3 separate regions of the Homo sapiens genome follow, and regions 1 and 2 are each linked to region 3. Evidence: fine-mapped expression QTL. A gene starts in region 3. Each other region holds a variant in brackets. All regions are shown on one strand. Distances are between the middles of the regions. Region 1 overlaps ADGRG3 (adhesion G protein-coupled receptor G3). Region 2 holds the start of DRC7 (dynein regulatory complex subunit 7). Region 3 holds the start of ADGRG3 (adhesion G protein-coupled receptor G3).

Region 1 (7,771 bases), 19 kb before region 3:
CTCCTTCTTCCTCCTCCTCCTTCTCCCTCCTTCTTCCTCCTCCTCCTCCTTCTCCCTCCTCTTCCTTCTCCTCCTTCCTTCTCTTCCTTCTTCTCCTCCTTTTTTTTTTTAAAAACATGGTCTTGATTTGTCATCCAGGCTGGAGTGCAGTTACGTCATCATAGCTCACTGCAGTCTTGAACTGCTGGGCTCGAGTGGTCTTCCTGCTTCTTCTTCCAAGTAGCTACCATGCCTAGATATATTTTTTTTTTTTAAGAGACAGAGTCTTGCTCTGTTGCCCAGGCTGGAGTACAGTGGCACAATCTCAGCTCACTGCAACCTCCACCTCCCAGGTTCAAGCAATTCTCCTGACTCAGCCTCCTGAGTAGCTGGGACTGCAGGCGCACGCCACCATGTCCAGCTAATTTTTTTTGTATTTTAGTAGAGACGGGGTTTCACCATGTTGCCCAGGCTGGTCTCGAACCCCTGGGCTCAAGCAATCCTCTTGCCTTGGCCTCCCAAAGTGCTATGACTACAGGTGTGAGCCACCAAGCCCAGTCAAGGACCAGGTGATAATCCTTAAACTCAGGGACCACTCTGGGATGAGGGCAACCCGGGGAGGCCTGGCCCTAGCTTCAACCCAGCCCATGGAGTGACCTTAGTTGGGCAGGTGGCTGGGCCTGTCTGGACCTCCATTTCCTCATGCCATTACCCTTGGCTGGTCTTTCTTTAAATCAAGGCAGGGTGGGGGAGCTGACTAACTCCTGCGGAGTCAGTGCTGGGCACTTTATTTCTGTCACTTCATTTAATGCTGTCAGGATGAGGTGAGGACTTTATAATCCCCATTTTATGGATGGGGAAACTGAGGCTCAGAGAGGTGAAGTAAAATGCCCAGGATCACACAGCTCCTAAGTAGCCGAGCCAGGATTTAAGCCCAGACCTATCAGATGGTGGAACAGCTGTTTCTCAGGTTACCATCCCTGAGGCTTTGAGATAAGGAAGTTGAGACCTTCAGTGTGAGAAACAGATGTCTGTGAAGATAAGCCCCAAAACACACCAAGTTTGTCCACCAGAACTGCTCCTGTGGCTCAAATGATGCAATGTCCACGCCCCAGAATTTCCCTTCCAGGAACACAGCGCCTTGCATAAAGTGAGGGCCCACCTTCCTGTCTTTCAACTGCTTGTGGGCTGGGAGGGGAAGCGAAGCGCATCCATTTGCAGTCAACGTCAGCACCCAGCATCCGGACGGGGAGGTGGGCTGCAGCCCGCAGCTTCCAGGGCTGTTGGGGGAGGCCTAACAGTGACAGTAACTTCTCACCTGCAGACAGGGCTTGACAGTCCACAGAGCTCCCTGGAGAGGGTCGGGGGCCGGGTAGGGAGAATGGTTGGTAAGTTGTGAGTAGAGTGAGGGATGGACTTGTGCGGTGAGGCTCCAGGGAGGGGAATGATGTCAACACTCACTGCTCCCCCCGAGGAGGGGGGTCGCTGGAGCCGGCGTGGGGCTGCCATCTCTCTGCATCTGTCTCTCCGCCACCGTTCTCCCTCTTTGTGTCAGCCTGTCTGTTAAGTCTCTCTCTCCTTCTCTCCATCTCTGTATCTCTACCCCATCTCTGCTATCTCTGCCTCTTTTTGTTTCCTACTGAGAAACCTGCATGCGATTGTGACATGGAGCCCCAGCTGCTGGAAGTACCCTGCCCAACCTAGGTCTGGCCTGAGACACCCCCCTTGGCTCAGGGATCTGCCAGGCTGGTGCCAAACTCATACATCCACTCATTCAGCCAACAAATATTTATTCAAGGTTTGCCACGAGCCAGACCCTGTGCTTGGCCTGGGCTGGAACAGTAAGCGAGGCCACCCAGGTCCTTGTTCTCTAGGAGCTCAGGTCCTAGTGGCAATGCCCAGCCTCTGCTCAGGGGCCCCACACACTGAATGAGTGGGAGCACCCCCAGGTGTGCTGAGCCCCAGATTGTTTGCTTTCTACCTCTACGATGACAGCAGGTCAGAGGTCGGGCCACCCACGTGGCAGTCAGAGTCAGGAGTGGGGGGTTTGCCCAAGGTAGCTCACCCACTCAGTGGTTCTTTGAAATGCAGTGTCCCTGGACACGTGCAGGGCTGCCAGCACTCTGAACACGGGGGTCTCTTCCAGGAGGGTGGGCTCTGATTGGATGGGCAGAGACCAGGGGCAGACTGGGTGGGA[G/A]GATCAACTCCCACCCCCCAAAACAAACCCCCAGTGCCTGAGGGAACGCTGGCCTCCTGAATGCCCCTCAAGGTTACAGGCAGCCAGAAGGGGAGTTGTGGGAGGCCAGTGACAAGGAGGAGGAGGGGAGAGGCTGGGGGCTCCTTCCAGGGCTATGCCAGCAACAGACTCTCCTCCCTTGCTGAGACCAGAAGGTGAGTGAGGGCTTTGCAATGAGGGCAGGGCATGGAGGTGACTGTCACTCTTTGCTGGCAGGGGGTCTCAGGACTATAGGAACTTTAGAGCCTTGCAAACCTGCTTACGTGGACTCTTGGACCTATAGTTGGATCTGGATGGGACCTCTGATGCCACGTGGTCCAACCTGGTCCCATCCTCTCCCTCCCCAGCCACATTGTACAGAGAAGGAAACTGAGGGAGTACAGAGAGAGGCACGGAGCTGCCCAAGGTCACACAGAGAGCCAGAGCTGAGTCCATATTGCAGGGCCGTGCCTTCCTATTCTTGAGATGCGGAGTGGGCCTGGTCCAATCTTGCAGTAGAGGAGGAGACTGTGGTGCTCTGACTTGGGAGGTAAAGGATGGTGAACCAGCAGCAGATGAAGACACCTGTTAGGAAGGAGAGGCCTCGGTGAGCCTGGAAAGGGGTGGGCAGAGAGTGGGGCAGCCTGGGCTGGTGGCTGCTGAGAGGGAGGAGACCCACCGTAACCACTCAAGAACTGCTGGGAAAGGCAAAAATGCAACCATTTCACAACCATTTCAAAAATGAAATAAAAAAGAACCAAATCGAAATCTTGGAAATGAAAAACAGAGACCTTCAAATAAAATATCTACCTATGCCTATTACAGAAAAGAAAGAGCAAAATAGAGGAATTTTCAGACATACAAAACAACCATCACTCCCTCTATAAAGGATTATTATGGGAGGCACTCCAGCAAGAGGAAAAGGGAAAGTGTGGGGTGAAAGAAATTATAGTAAGTACAGAACATGACTTAGAAAAACTCTATGTTTCAAGGAAATCTGTAACTAAACCTCTATATGCAAGACAAATATTGAGAAGAGTTCAATGGGCAATTCAAGTATACCAAGGGCTCTGTTGTATTGGAGAGGAAGAGAGAAATACAGAATAACTCAGACCCAGTGGAAACTTAGTAGAGTGAAGTGTGCAGGCTTACATATTAAGGTAACCTCTGAAAGAATAACGATGTCAGCTATAGTTTCAAAGTTCATTTCTCCCCAACCATCAACCCCTGGGATTCTCCAGGCATGGACTCATGATTCTCCACCTGGAGACAGCCTCAGATGGCCTTACAGTCATAATTTCTATGATTATTAATATAGTTCCCACATATTGAAGACCTAGTAGTTCCCACATATGCATTGTCATTGTTCATTGTGAAATCTGGCAGGCCAGGCACAGTGGCTCACGCCTGTAATCCCAGCACTTTCGGAGGCTGAGGCAGGTAGATCATCTGAGGTCAGGAGTTTGAGACCAGCCTGACCAGTATGGTGAAACCCCATTTCTACTAAAAATTCAAAAATTAGCTGGGCATGGTGGCATGTGCCTGTAGTTCCAGCTACTCAGGAGGCTGAAACCAGAAGAATTACTTGAACCCAGGAGGTGGAGGTCGCAGTGAGCTGAGATCGTGCCACTGCACTCCAGCCTGGGTGACAGAGCAAGACTCCATCTCAATTAAAAAAAAAAAAAAGCTGGTGAGATAAGTACGGGATTATCCCAATTTCGCGATGAATGAGGACGGAAGGAGCTGAGTGACTTGCTGGGTCAGGGATGGGGCTAGGATTTGGACCCAGGGCTGCCTGGCCCTAGCCACTAAGCCACACATCTCTCATGGGGCGCTGGGAGCCAGTCCTGGTCTTGGGGGCTTATACCCGCTGCATCTAGGACGCCTGGGTTTCTAGTGACTTCCCTGAACAGGTTGAGTCTCGTCACTCCTGTCTTGGCTGTTTCTCTCACAGTCAGACTGTGATGCCTCTCTGGGCTGTGGATGTAAGGAGCAAAGAGAACACATATAAACCATAGCACATGGACTGCTCTTACCCCTTTGCTGGGATCTCAGAGGAAGGGCCCTGCGGGGGCCAGTAACAAATACAGCAAGCATTTCCTTCCTACCTCCATAGATCCCTGGAGATCCCATCCATGTCATGTGGACATCATATCACATGATTCTGCCCTTCTGGTCGCAGCTGATTGGACCAGAGATGGACGATGGACACCCAACTTGCAAGGTCAGGTAGGGTTACGGCAGCCATGTTGGGTAACAATTTGGGGCCATGGGTAGTAAAGGGTAAGTGGAGAGAGAATGAAGGAGTTTCCACAGACACTAGGTGAGAGACTCCATAGCTCCAGGAAAAAGATAGAGAACGTATCTGCTTTGGTTTGGGTGGCTTTTTCTGATTCTGGTAGCAGCTCCCATGAAGGCAGCTGATATGTCTGGGATGTTTGTTGCTTCCAAATCTCATGTCCAAATGTGATTCCCAATGTTGGAGGTGGGGCCTGAGGGGAGGAGATTGGATCCTTGGAGCGGATCCTCATGCATGGCTTAGCACTATCCCCTTGGTGATGAGTGAGTGCTCACTTGGAGTTCATGCGAGATCTCGCTGTTTAAAACGGCATGGTGCCTCCCCACTCCCTTGCTCCCACTCTCGCCATGTGATACGCTGGCTCCCCTTTATCTTCCACCATGATTGGAAGCTTCCTGAGGCCTCACCAGGAGCAGATACTGGTGTTGTGCTTTGTCTAAAGCCTGCAGAACCATGAGCCAATTAACCCCATTTTCTTTATAAATTACCCAGTCTCGAGTATTCCTTTGTATTCTAGTAACACAAACGGACTAATACAGCAGCCAAACTTTGCTGCCCTGGATCCTTGCTCTGAGTATTTGAAATCAACATCCTTGACTTCAGCTAGCCTGAACAGAGTCCTGTGTCTTGCAAACCACCCTCTTCCCCACCTCCCAATACCTCCTGGGACAGACAACACAGCCCATCACCTCCCTGGTGCAGGGGCCTCACCTTGCAAGGAGTTGAAAAGTGCAAAGATGTAGACGGTGGAGAGGCCCAACGGGGTGAAGATGGCCAACCCCCATGTCACACCCACCAGGCTCGAGAGGCCCAGCAGGGTGAGCACCTTCTTCCGGTTCTTCCCCCGCTCCTTGACCGCTGTAGCACGGGACAGGGTGAAGATCTTCCAGACCACCAGGGCCAGGACCACCATGCCAAAGAGGAAGGTGATGAGGAAGTAGCCGTGGACGGTGATATAGAGGGCGTACATGGTTGTCCCTTCACGGAACCAGCATCTGGAGGAGGGGGCAGCTGTGGTGGGACTGGGAGTGGTACCTCTGGCCAGCAAACCCAGGAAGTCCCCTGGCTGAGCTTTTCTGTCTGTGAAGGTGCCTCTCCCATTTCCACCCATCAATCCCTGGCTCTCCCGCTGTGGGAGGGGCCGTCACCTGGCTCCAGTCTGGTGTCTCTTTAATGCCAAAGTGACCTCAAAGACATGTTTCATTTGCCCCATATTACATTGTGAAAAAAACGGAATTAGTGGCCGCCTTTAAAATCAGAAGCTTTGGTATAAACACCTAGATTTCTGCTTCTCCTATAAAATCATACACCTGGCAGCTCTGTGGATGCCCTCCTGAAGGATAGTAACTGACCGCTAATTAGATGGGCTTGTGACTGCCAGTCCGCTGCAGTCCCCACCTGGCCCACTGCCTGCACCTTTGTGACCCCTCCAGCTCCTGGGGCCCCTGCTTTTGAGGCCTGGGGACAGGTCCAAGGCCTCACCAGCTCCTCTTAGCACAGAGCCATGGGCCCAGTGGTGGGTGCCCCATGGATCCCAAGGTGTGAGTCTAGAAACTGAACTCAGCTCCACTGCCCTCTGCACTGCAGGGGCAAAGGGCCTCAAAGAGCATGTTGATCAGTTCCCCCATGGTGCAGATGAGGAGACTGAGGCCCTGGGAGAGATCGGGCCTGCCAAGATCACACACATAGCAGGCAGGGCAGAGCCCAGACTAGACCCAGGGCTACTGTGAATCACTGGGCAGGTGGTGGCCTGAACAAGGACACCTGGCTGGGCAGCAGGTGGGGGCTGAAATCCAACACACCCTCCACTCTCCAGGCTGCGCACCCCGCATGCGGACGGGGTGACCTTCTTTACTTTGCCTCAAGGTGCCATGTGGGCTCGTGTTGGCCCAGGCTCAAGTAAGGCATCCTGCCTCCTGGTCCAGTTCTCCCTCTCCTTTCTCAGGCCCCCTCTCTCATTTCACTTCCCCTCTCTCTCTCTAGGCTTCAGTTTACTTCTCTGTGCCATGAGCTAGCTGGATCTGAGGATTCTTCTGGTCTTGACATATTTGGTCTAGATTTTCCTAGAAATCCCTCCTCTCCCCACCTCTCTCCAGCCCCAATATGTGTAGCCGGGGAGCTGGCATCACCCCTGCTCCCACAGCCGCCACTCACAGCTCCAGAGAGGTGCGGTTCTCCCTATCACGGATGGTGTAGAGGCCGTAGCTGTTGGCACTCCCAGTGCCGATGACCATCAGGGCGGGCAGGCCTGGGCACAAGGGGAAATGGCATGACACCACTGGGGCTTACTGGCACTTCCTCCTCCACGTCCCCTCCAGATGGCCATCCCTCCAGCTCTGGGAACCCCTCCTCTCTCTCCCCAAGGCTATTTCCCTCTGCACCCTCAGGGCCGGCCGTTTATTCTGTCCATCCAGGCAGCACCTACCCCAGCCCACCAGGCTCAGCTTCAGGAAGTAGTGCCCGAAGTAGGTGTTGAAGACCCTGACAGCGAGCAGGTAGAGGTGGAAGGCTTCAAGGCCCATCCAGGTGAAGGCACAGAGCAGGAAGTAGTGGAAGACAGCCCCCCGGGCCCAGCAGGCAGCATCAGACCCCTTTGAGCCACTCCCCACATTGACCAAGAAGGCCAGATTCAGGAGGAACAGGCTGCCACCCAGGGCCACGTGGATCTTTGGGGCATCTTCTGACTTGAACCTCTCCCGGGAAAGCCTGGGGTGAGAAATAAGAGGCCCCAAGGGGCCACAGCTCCCATGGGGAGCTCCCATGAGGCACCCAAGCCTGTCCACCCCAATAGCCTATGGCTCTCCACCCCCACTGCCAGCTCCTGCCTGCTCATCCAGCTTCCATCCCTGCCGGCAGCCAGAGTGGGAGTGTCCTGAGGTTCAAGTCCAGGAGCCTCTCATGGCCCACGGGGCCCTGTGGGTTCCGGATCCTGCCAGCCTCATCCCTTGATCAATGTGAGGCAGGATAATAGGGAAAATGAGGCCAGAAAATGAGGCAGGAGAATAGCAAAGGGAATTAAAAGTTGGATAAAGGGCAGAATAAGTAAAAGCAGAGAATAGAAGCACGGTGAATGGGACGGGTGAGCAAGAAGTGAGATGAAAAGCAGAGGTTCAGCAGGCAAGACAAAAGTGACATAAAAAAGGGACCCCGTGGCCGGCAAGATCCGGACCAAACCAGTAAGGGGCAGCTCTTCAGAGATGGGCATTTACATTAGAGAGAAAAAGTTTCTTTCACATAACCCTGTATGATAATTAGCTACTTAAGGTTCATGCATATGG
Region 2 (5,562 bases), 27 kb before region 3:
GCTACCCCATCTGTAACACCTTTCTAATCCTGGCAAATATTCCTTTACAACAAAGACAAAGCAGGCCTCCGGTTGGAAGCCATCCTCAGGACAGGACAGGGAAAGGCACGTGTCGATTTGCTTTTAGTATATTTGACAGTTATCTTTTTTTTTAAATTTTTTATTTTTTTGAGACAGGGTCTTGCTCTGTCACTCAGGCTTGGAGTGCAGCAGCACGATCATGGCTCACCGCAGCTTCAAACTCCCAGGCTCAAGCAATCCTCCCACCTCAGCCTCCCCAGTAGCTGAGACCACAGGTGCACACCACCACACCTGGCTATTTTTTTTTTTTGGTAGAGACAGGGTCTGGCTATGTTGCCCAGGCTCAAACTCCTGGCCTCAAGCGATCTTCCTGCTTTGGCCTCCCAAAGTGCTGGGATTACAGGCATGAGCCATTGTGCCAGCTGACAGTTATCAATGACAAGTACTGTGAATGCTGTGGGGATTACTATAGTATTGTCAAGTTTCTTATTTAAATAAATGAATTGGCTGGGTGCGGTGGCTCATGCCTGTGATCCCAGCACTTTGGGAGGCCGAGGCAGGTGGATCACTTGAGGTCAGAAGTTCGAGACCAGCCTGGCCAATATGGCGAAACCCCGTCTCTACTAAAAATACAAAAATTAGCCAGGCGTGGTGGCACACGCCTGTAATCCCAGCTACTCAGGAGTCTGAGGCAGGAGAATCACTTGAACCTGGGAGGCAGAGGTTGCAGTAAGTTGAGATCGCACCACTGCACTCTAGCCTGGGTGACAGAGTGAGACTCTGTCTCAAATAAATAATAAATAAATAGATTGGTTTAAAGAAAATCCTAACGGTAAGGTGATATGATCTACAACCCACCCAAAAATGAGGATGGCAGGTGAATGATATCTCACCTGATCAAACTGGGAACCGAGGCACAGAGAGTGAAGGTGCCTGCACCAGGGCATACAAACAGGGAGTGGGGGGTGGGGGTAACACAGCCTACTCTCTCTTGGCCAAGGCCTGTGTTGGCCCAGAGAACAGGCTTCATTCTGTGATCCACGCAGAGACGCCACATGTGCTCACCATATGTCCTGTGGTCACAGAGCAGAGCCACACTGAGCGGGGACTGCTAGTCACCTACCCAAAGATCCAGTCTCCTCTTCTATACGGCAGAACCCCAGTTGTGTGGGGGGCAGCAGTGTGCCTGGTTTGAATTGCTCAGCTTCCCAGATTCTCTTGCAGCTAGAGGTGGCCCTGCGATGTGACCCGGTTCTGGCCAATGAGATGTGGGCAGAAGTGATTGGGGAGCCCTCTGCCCTTCTCCTCCTCCCACCTGGAATGTGGAGATAAAGTGGGAGGTGGGGCAGCCAAGGCGAGACCATGAGGTGGCCACACATGAGGGCTAAAGCTGCCTGCTATGGACGGCAGGGCCGAGAGATGGGGGAGCTGGGGTCCCCAGCAGTGCCACAGAGGCCTGGAGTGCCACCTCTAGCCTTTCCTTATATAAGAAACCTCAGCTTCTATGGGGGTCCCTGTTCCACACCACCCAACGCCATCCCAGCTGATGCACTATCTGCAGCCTCCCAGCTGGGGTCTTTCCATTTCTGTCCTCGAACATCTGTTTTCCTTACGGCAAATGGGGGTCCAGAGATGAGGAAAACAAACGAAACCCACAGGACAAAGGGGGCGAGTAGTAAGGAAAAAAAGCAGAATCCCCTTGATTTTCTAATCATCCCCCACTTCCCTGGGTGAAGCCAGGAGCAAGAGGGCAGAAGGGAGCAGCAGATAAAGGCTGGCCCCAATTTCCAACTCCACACCCACATGGGCCACCTCGGCCTCCTAGGGAGGTGAGTCCCTGGCCACCAGCCACGACTGAGCCTGGTTGGGGAAACCCTGGCTTTGCCAGTAGCTCCTGCTGGACCCTTGGGTCACTGTCTGCGCCTTTCTGTGCCTTAGTTTCTCTTTATAGTAGGAAGGGAGGGCAGATATTTTCTGTCCAATTCTGACATTCTGTGCTCTGGGACTCAGGAGGGGACGAATGCTCATCTGGCTGGAAGCCACCCAAGGCCTAGGTAGCCCAACACCATTCAGGACCCCAGATCCTCAGGGGAGAACCTCTAGCCAAGCAGCACTTCTCAGTGATCAGATCCATTTGTTGGCCTCTTGGTCCCAGAGACAATGAGCCCAGGAAGGGCAGTCATCACCATTACAAGGCATTTACAGTTTGCTGAATGCCTACTGTGTGTCAGACCTGTGCTGAGGGTTGTACGGAGATCATCTCACTTATCCTCTACTGACTCTATGAGGCAGACACTGAGGACACCCACTTTGCAGATGAGAAGATTGGGGCCCAGAGAAGTTAAGTGCACTGCTTAAGGTACAGCCAGTAAGTAGCAGGTCTGGGATTTGAACCCCTGTATTTCTGGTTGTGAAACCTGTGTGTCTCAGGCTGGAAGAGATATGAGATGGGGAAGTGCTAGAAGGGATGGTGGGGGTGGGGGAGTGGTGGGCAAGGAAAGAAGTAGGCTGAAGAGGAAGCCGACGTGTCAGTCCCAGAACACCATCAGAGGCAGAGCTGGGGAGAAGAACCCACAGCACTTTATTCCCTACACAGGTGGCCTCTTCAGCTATAGCCCAGTGTGGGGAAGGCAGTCTTATCTCAAGGTTCCTTAGATTCTGCCCCAACCCACCGGCCCTTCCCTGCACCCC[C/G]TCTCCACCAGCAACTTCCTCCTCCCAACACACATAAACACGCACACACACCCCACCAACAACTTCCCCAGAAAGATCAGGGCTGGAGGCCCCCAGGCAGAAGGGGGCCACCAGCCTCACCCTTTCCCTGCCAGACAGGGTCCAGCCACCCCAAGTCCCTTGCTCCCTCCTCACCCCTCCGAGGACAGCCTGCTCTAGCTGTTAGCCATCTCCATGGTAACAACCTGGGAAGCTGAACGCCGGTCCTGGGAGAGGAGGCTTCTGGGAAATGTAGTCTTCCCAGGTTTCATGGGTCCTTCTGCCAGCGGTGCACTGGTATAGTGGGGCATCAACTTGATAGTTGTTAAACTTTCCAAAATTTTTGTGAAACACAGCCATTATTAAAAATTAAGAGGGCTGGGCACGGTGGCTCACACTTGTAATCCCAGCACTTTGGGAAGCCAGGGCGGGAGAATCCTTTGAGCCCATGAGTTCAAAACCAGCCTGGGCAATATATAGTGAGAACCTCTCTAAAAAAAAAAAAAAAAAAAATTGGCCATGGGGTTATTTACACCACAAAAATTAGCAAACGCCAAGACCAGGGCTTTTCCTCTGAGCCAGCCAGTTGTTAAACATTTACCAGCACAGCACAGCCCCTGCCCCACGGCATGCCGAATGTGGCCTTGATCGAGACAGACAGAAACCAGTGTGGGGCCTGGAGTAGCTGCCAGCTGCGGTGGACAGAACCAGGCTGCCTTGACTGAGTCCTGGGTTCTAGTCCAGGCCGGAGCTGTGATGTAGAACATTACCTCGAAGTACGGGGAAAACCTATCCATTAGGCTAGTGGCTCATGAAAATGTTTAATTTCTTTTAAATTCAGAAGAAAAAAATGAGAATAATAATGACTATATAAGTGTGAATCTGCCCTGAATTATATCTGTGTTTTTACCAATACAGTCCTAAAATATAATCTTCACTGTTTTATTTTTGGAGGGAGGGGTGCATGGGCCTTTTTTGGTCAGGGGATAGGGCTGCCAGGAGGGAATCCAGACTGTCACTGTGCTGACAAGTTTGCACAGTTAGTGTTACTGCTAGAAACTTAGGAATTGCCTCAATTCTCATGAATAGAGAATGATGTTCCCCCTCCCAGCTGGAATATCATGCAGCCATAAAAATAAGCTGTAAAGGATCAATTGCACTGTGGAGAGCTCACGAGACAGTGTGTGTAGTATTTCAGACTTGGTGCTAAAGGATCAATTGCACTGTGGAGAGCTCACGAGACAGTGTGTGTAGTATTTCAGACTTGGTGCTAAGCAACTCGTAATTACCTCTGTGGGGAACTGGCTGGGATGAAGGCAGGAAGGGAGGAGGGAGGAGAAAGGAAAACAGGTGATGCGTTATGCTAGTGGGATGCAGCATAGGCTTCATTGTCCTTTTTCAACCCTATGCAACACTTCATTCCTTTTACATATTTATTCATTCCTTTTTCTCTTCATACCCACTTTCATTTCCCACCTCTATAAAGTAACCATTCTGATGTGTATTTTTTTTTTCCAAAATGAGTATTGTTTGGCATGCTGGTGTTTTTAATATATGTTTAATATGAGACTGAACAAATATATCCTTCTGGTTCTTATATTTTCATGAAGGGCTGTGTTTTTAAGATCTCTCCACGTTATTGTGTGGATCCACACTTATTACCTCTTCGTCCTTCCAGTGACGGGCACTCGGTGTCCAGGTGTTCTAGAGGGAGCTTTCAATGTCCCCAGGCACTGATAGTTGTTTAGGTTGTTGCTGGAAACATGGAAAGATCAAACAAATGCTAAACGTGCCCCAGCCCTGAACCGAATCCCTTAAACACTCATATAAACTCCATAAACCCACCTCCTCGTTATGAACAGACTCATCTCCCTTCTTGCTGTCTGTCATGAGAACACTACAGCCTTCCCTATGTACGTTTCCCTAATAAATGCTTTGGATGGATACGGATCACCCCGGCGCTTAGTGTTTATTTCTTTGGAATTCCAACTGGCCCTACCTCTTGACGGTTTGGGGCAGTCTTGAGGGAACTCCCCAGCAGACATTGGGTGGGCTGGACAGACCACTCAGATTTGCTACCAGCTCCCTTCCATCACAGACAATGCTACACAGGTCTAGAGGGGTCTAGATCTGGAAGAATGTTTCTTCAAGATAAACAACCAGTAGCAAGATTGCTGGCTCAGCAGAAGCACTGTGTTTTTCTCCAGGCAGCTGAAGCAGTCTAGACTCTCCCTGGCTCCCATATCGTCCCTGCCCATTGGTACCATCTAGCTTTCTAGTTCATCAGTTTAATAAGGATACAATGAGGTCTCATTGTCATTTCAGTCTGCAGCTCTCTGATGACTAATGATTTTAAATGTGTCTTCATGAACTAATGTGTTAGTTTTAGGTATTTCCTCCTCTGAAAATAATGATGCCACCTTTGTCACGTATTAAATCCCCCAGGTGTCCATGGGTCTGCCTCTGAGCACTCTGTGCTGTTCCACTGATCTTCTTTCCTATCCCTGCACAGACACCACGTTGCATTTACCAAACTGGCCTTGTAATATCTTTATGTCTAGAGGTCAAGTCTTCCTTCTATGCCCCTCTTTCTGTTTTTTCTTTCTGAGACAGGGTCTAGCTCTGTCGCCCAGGCTAGAGTGCACAGGCATGATCTCGACTCACTGCAACCTCCACCTCCTGTATGCCCTCTTTCATTAAGATTGACTTAGCTATTTGAGGTCTATATGCCTCCATATCAATTTTAAAAGTTTCTGGAGAAGCAAAAAAAAATAAATTAGAATATTTATTTTTTTCCCTTATTTTATTTTATTGTAGAGACAGGGTCTTGCT
Region 3 (5,000 bases):
AATGATAGATGAGCATGAATATAGTATGATCTATGTTGGCTTTTTAAAAAAGGGGAGAAGAGGGAGAGGAGGAAGAAGACAGAAACAGGGAGAGGGAAGAGAGGAGAGGGGAGGAGGGGTTGAGAGGGGAAGGAAGAGGACAGGAGAGGAGGGGAGATAACATTGTCAGCTTGAGGACGGGTGCCATTCTCTGCCATCCCGGCCCTGCTGTCATGAATGGGTCCAGGTGCAGGCCTCCCTCCCGGATTGCCATGAATTTCAGCGCAGGCATGTAAGTGAAGCTCTTGGCAAGCACCCTACACAGACAGGATCATTAAATATCTTTTCTGTGTTTATTCTTTGAAGACACTGCAAGCATTTCATGTAGACAAGGAGACCCTGTGCTAGGCCTGTGGGTGGGATAGCACTCCCCTCCTCTCCAGACCCTCTATGCTCCAGAGCCTGGCCTCCATGGACTGCCTCATTTGGGGGTCAGCAAGTGGAAAGTGGACTGGAGGTCAGAGGGCAGGAGGAGGGCAGAGTGGGCATTTGCCCCCACCCCGCATGGCTCCTTCAGCCCCTGCTGGCTCACCGTGAGCAAACCACCGCCATTTCCCTCCTGTAGCCACAGTCTGGCTGTAGAAGCCCAGGGGGCCACTCCCTCCTGGCCCCTTTAGACCTCACGGTGCTGAAGGCTGCCCCAGGTGCCAGCCTGCCCAGTGACCACCCTCCTTGCTCCCCGTGCCCTGCCCGCACCTTTGTCACGTGTCCCTTCATGCCAGGCCCTCCATTGCATCCACCCCTTGCTCAGCCCTAACAGCTGGGTCTCACATGCGAGCCCCCACCACACTGTGTCACTCCTGCAGACTGTGAGCCTTTTGAGGGCAGGGGCCAAGTGGTACCAGCAGGAGCAGAGGGCACCATCGATGCTTCCTGAATGAATGAATGAATGAATGAATGCGCAAATGGAGAATGGAGACTAACACATCACTGTCCACACAGGAAGTGTGCAGACCTTCCTGTGTGTAGACCTCTCAGAGCTCCTTGCTCAATCAAATGGCTGCTGCTCTGCCCCAACCAGAGCACCCACATCACCATGGGGGAAACAGCATCACCTGGAGGAGGCTTGAAGGCCCAACCAGCGATGACAGCTGGGACCTGAGGACGCCCATGAGCCCTGGTCACAGCTGCCATCGGTGGCTCCGTTCATTCATCTATCAAGGGCTGCCTGGTGGCCTGCTCTGTACCAGGGCCTCCCGGGGCCACTAGGAGGACAGTGCTGTCATCTCCCACCCTTTTTTGAGCCAGGGACTGATTCACTCCACTGAATCTTCCAATGTTTGAAAAGAAGAGGGTTATTTGAAGACCAAATAAGTTGATCTATGTGGCCAAAGTCACGCGACCACACGCTGGACACACAGGGAGATGGACATGCAGGCCCCTCACCGAGTCAGGAGCAAAAAGAGAGTGGCCTGCAAGGCCCTGAGACAGGAGCACTGAGGAGGGAGCACTAACGGGGGAGCACCTCCCTCTGTCCGAGAGGGTTGCTAAGACGCCACAGAGGCCAAGAAGGGTAAATGGAGCTGGCTAAGTGGGCAAGGGGTAGGGGGACAGCTTTCCTGGGAGAGAGGCCAGCAAAGGCAAGGCCCGGGCACTTCCATGGCCTCTGGAGACGCACCATGTGTTTGTGTGTGAGACGGGAGAGTGACGGGGAGGAGTGTGGATCCTGGCTCAGGCCACTGAGGACCAAGAGGTTGTGGCTGAGACTGGGAGAGGGAGCCGGTGTGGGGTGACATGTGCGGGAGGAGAGGTCCAGAAGAACGAGGTGACAGACCTTCCTGGCCTCAGCTTCCAGAGTGTCTGAATCCCGTCCCCAGGATCTCACAAGCCAGCTGGAGAATTGCCTGCCCGGGGCCAACCCCTGTCTCAGAGCCAGGCCTGTCAGGGAGACACAGCCCAGGTTGGGGAGTCAGGGAGCACCCTCCGACCTCCCCTATCTCCAGGGCACTGTGGAGCAACAAAGGGAACCTGAGACCAGTCCTGAGCAAGGTTTAGTGGAAGGACAGGACTGACCCAAAGGGACAGGGCTAGAGAAGGTGCTGAGGCGGCCACGGGGGGTATCGGAGGACACATCCCAGACACCCCAACTCCTCACCTTCTCCAGTCCCTGCGTCTGTCCCTGGATCCCTCCCTCGGCAGGGCAGGGTCGGCCCAGCGTGGCAGGAGGGGATGAGGTGCCAGCCACTCACCTGAGGTCGGGAGCAGGAGGAGCAGGAGCAGGGCCCCCAGGCCCCTGGGCGTCGCCATCCTTGGCCAGCCTTGCCCACGCCAGGAGCTCTGTGGCTGTCTGGCCCTCTGGCCCCAGGCTCTGCTGAGCTGGCCTGCCCCCACCCTGCAGCCCCACCACTCTGGCTTCCTGTGTCCTCTTTCTCACCCTTCCTGCTCGATGGCGCCATTGGTTGGGTTGTGAAAGGTGAGTGTGGGGAACTGGGCAGTGCTCCCAGTCTCACCGCACCCTGGGTCCACCTGCAGAGGGAGCTGCTGAGCCCACCCAGGTATGTGCCCCCGGGGCCCCACTGGGGTGGGATCTACGGGGCTAGGGGCTGGGTGGCCACAGGGGCCTGGCTCAGAGCGGATCCCTGGGAACTGTGGTGAGCACAGGCTTTGGAGTCAGGCGCACCTACTCAGACCCCTCCTCTCACAAGCTGGGAGCCTCTCTGAGCCTCAGTTTCCTCCTCTGTAAAGTGAAGATGGCAATGGGGCTGCCTCCTAAGGCTGTGTCAGGGTTTGATGAGACCTGCAACAAGCTGGGCACAGAGCCTGGCTCTGGGCATGAGGACGAAGACCCAGATGGTGCCTATGGCTTGAACCAGGCTGGAGGGTGTGGGAGGAGAGCAGGAGCTGGCCCTGCAGCCTGAGCTTCCCCCACCAGCCTGGATAACAGGACGGACCCAGAGGCAGGGTAGCGGGAAGACAGCAGTGCGGCCCCGGGGGCTGGTCAGGCCTGAGCTAACATCCATCCTGGCCACTTCCTGGCCGGGTGACCTTGCATGCACTGTCTGTCACCCTGAGCCTCCCGAGGTGTGTGATGAAATCATGGATGACGCAGGCGGAGCCGCCTGTGGCCATTACATCATTTCTGATCATCAGAGCTGTGAAATTGTTGTCTTTACACCCCAAATGGTCACTGATCAGGTGGGAGGTGGGGGTGGCAAACACTCCTGGGCTTCAGCCTAAAGGAATTAGGGCGCCAGCCACTCGGGCCAACTCTGGAGGCCCCACGGATGCACTGTGCATGAGGCCATGGCCACTTGGCAATTGGAAGGTGAAGGGCATCCCACCAAGGTGTGTGGTTGCTGGCATCCCCCTCTGGCCCACGGGGCTGGCACTAGCCCTACTCAGCCTTGGGATTGAACTGGGGAGCCGCTCAGCCCCTGCTGGCCTCCATTTCCTCCTCCTCCCACTCAGTGTCTCCTGCTGAGCCCTCTGGGTCTGGGAAGGGGTAGGGAGGGGATGTCAGGGTCACTCATGGTGTGGGAGCAGGTGGGAATTCAGCATGGAGCAGCAGGTCAGAGCCCAGGGCTTCCTGAGCCCCAGAAACTTCCTCTGCAGGGAGGGCTGCGAAGGCAGATGAATGGCTGGGCCTGCCACTGCTCCACACCTGGCCAGCCTTCTCCTGGAAGATCTGCAGACCTCCCTCCCAGCTGCAGGTGAGGGTGAGGTGGGGCAGTGGACTTGGATGTGCTGGGCCCATCGCTGAAGCCCCATCCTGGCACCTGGGCCCTCAGAGAGGCTCGCAGGTACCAGTGTGTGAAGAAGCGCCTGGGGGTGAGCAGACTGAGATTCCGAGCAGCCAGCCCACCTGGGAAGTGGGCAGAGGGCAGGTGCAGGGGAAGGTCAGGCAGGGCTGGAAGGAGGGCCACCTTTTCCTAAGGCCCCTTCCCTGAAACGCCCCCTGGGGACCAGGGACTAGCCTGGAGCCACTCACAGAACCCTGAGACCCCCCCCAACCCCAGGGCCAACAAAACAGTAGTGTCCCTTCCTGCCGCCTCCTGCCCCAGCTTCTCCCAATGGCTCCAGTGGGCAGGGCCTCAAGTCCTCCAGCGAGACCCAGCCAGCATTCAGCCCTCAGCTGCTCCAATCCATTTCCCAAGCTAAAGGGATGTTTCCAGATGCACGCCTGGCCACATGCTGGCAGAAAGGGCGATCCCACTGTCCAAAGCCCCACAGCCTGGGAAAGTGCATGATAATAACCATCGGGGTAAAAGGATCAGCATGGAACTGTTGGTGCCCTGTGCAGGGCCTACCTGAGAAGGTGAGACCCAACCCAAGACCCCTCCCCACTACCTGAGCCAGCCTCAGATGCAGAAACAAAATGTTTGAGAAGCAGGAGAATTGCGGAGGAACGGGGCTGGGTCATTTCCCCCCCATTCTGGAAGATGGGGGGAGTTGCCTCAACCCCCATCCCAGGACCTAGCCCAGCCATGGGGCTCTGAGAGACCCCCCTCACGGAGACCTAGAAGCCTGTAAGGAGGGAAGCTGGCTTTGATCCCCCGGGGCTGCCCAATCCGGACACTGGGGTAGGGGAGGCTTGGGAAGGTTTGGCCTCTGTCCTTTGGAGCTGGGGGCATAAGAGGAGCCCCCCACCTGCAGAAAGGTGGGGACAGAGGTCAGTGGAGGGAGTGGAGGGGGTGGAGGGAGGGCTGGGAGAGCAGCAGGGCACAGGGGTTCTTGGTCCCTGCAGGTCCCAAGATCCCACATTCACGCCCCTCAGAGGGCACTGCCAGTCTAGACCCAGCTGCCTCACACCCACCTTGTCCAATCCAAGACTCTGAGCCTCTTCCCCTGCTGGGCATCCCCCTAGAGTGGCCAGGGGAGGAGGGAGGAGCCTGCAGAAGGGAGAGAGTGGACTGTGGGCCTTGGGGAGGACTTTGGCTGCACTGGGACCTCTTACCTGAACACAGTAGCAATGATCCGTTGTGACTGCCCTCATCACAGGGAAGATGGGAACCTGCGTGATC

Evidence for each region. PIP is the estimated chance that this variant, and not a neighbour inherited with it, causes the effect.
Region 1: its variant is fine-mapped to the expression of ADGRG3 in whole blood (TOPMed, PIP above 0.99).
Region 2: its variant is fine-mapped to the expression of ADGRG3 in whole blood (TOPMed, PIP above 0.99).

What each region holds. Positions count from the first base shown.
Region 1 is chr16:57,683,360-57,691,130 of GRCh38, reverse strand. ADGRG3 (adhesion G protein-coupled receptor G3) reads right to left here. Exons shown (of 12, transcript NM_170776.5): 9 at 6,919-7,199; 10 at 6,648-6,741; 11 at 5,205-5,488; 12 at 1,753-2,779. The coding sequence ends at 2,670. Among named protein-coding and RNA genes, the nearest start is that of DRC7, 7.6 kb to the left of the region's middle. RefSeq lists enhancers at 890-939, 990-1,039, 1,180-1,289. The variant G/A (reference allele first, on the strand shown) is at 2,177.
Region 2 is chr16:57,692,177-57,697,738 of GRCh38, reverse strand. DRC7 (dynein regulatory complex subunit 7) reads right to left here and starts at 2,933. Exons shown (of 19, transcript NM_001289162.2): 1 at 2,887-2,933; 2 at 1,145-1,275. The variant C/G (reference allele first, on the strand shown) is at 2,713.
Region 3 is chr16:57,665,634-57,670,633 of GRCh38, reverse strand. ADGRG3 (adhesion G protein-coupled receptor G3) reads right to left here and starts at 2,328. Exons shown (of 12, transcript NM_170776.5): 1 at 2,229-2,328. The coding sequence starts at 2,286.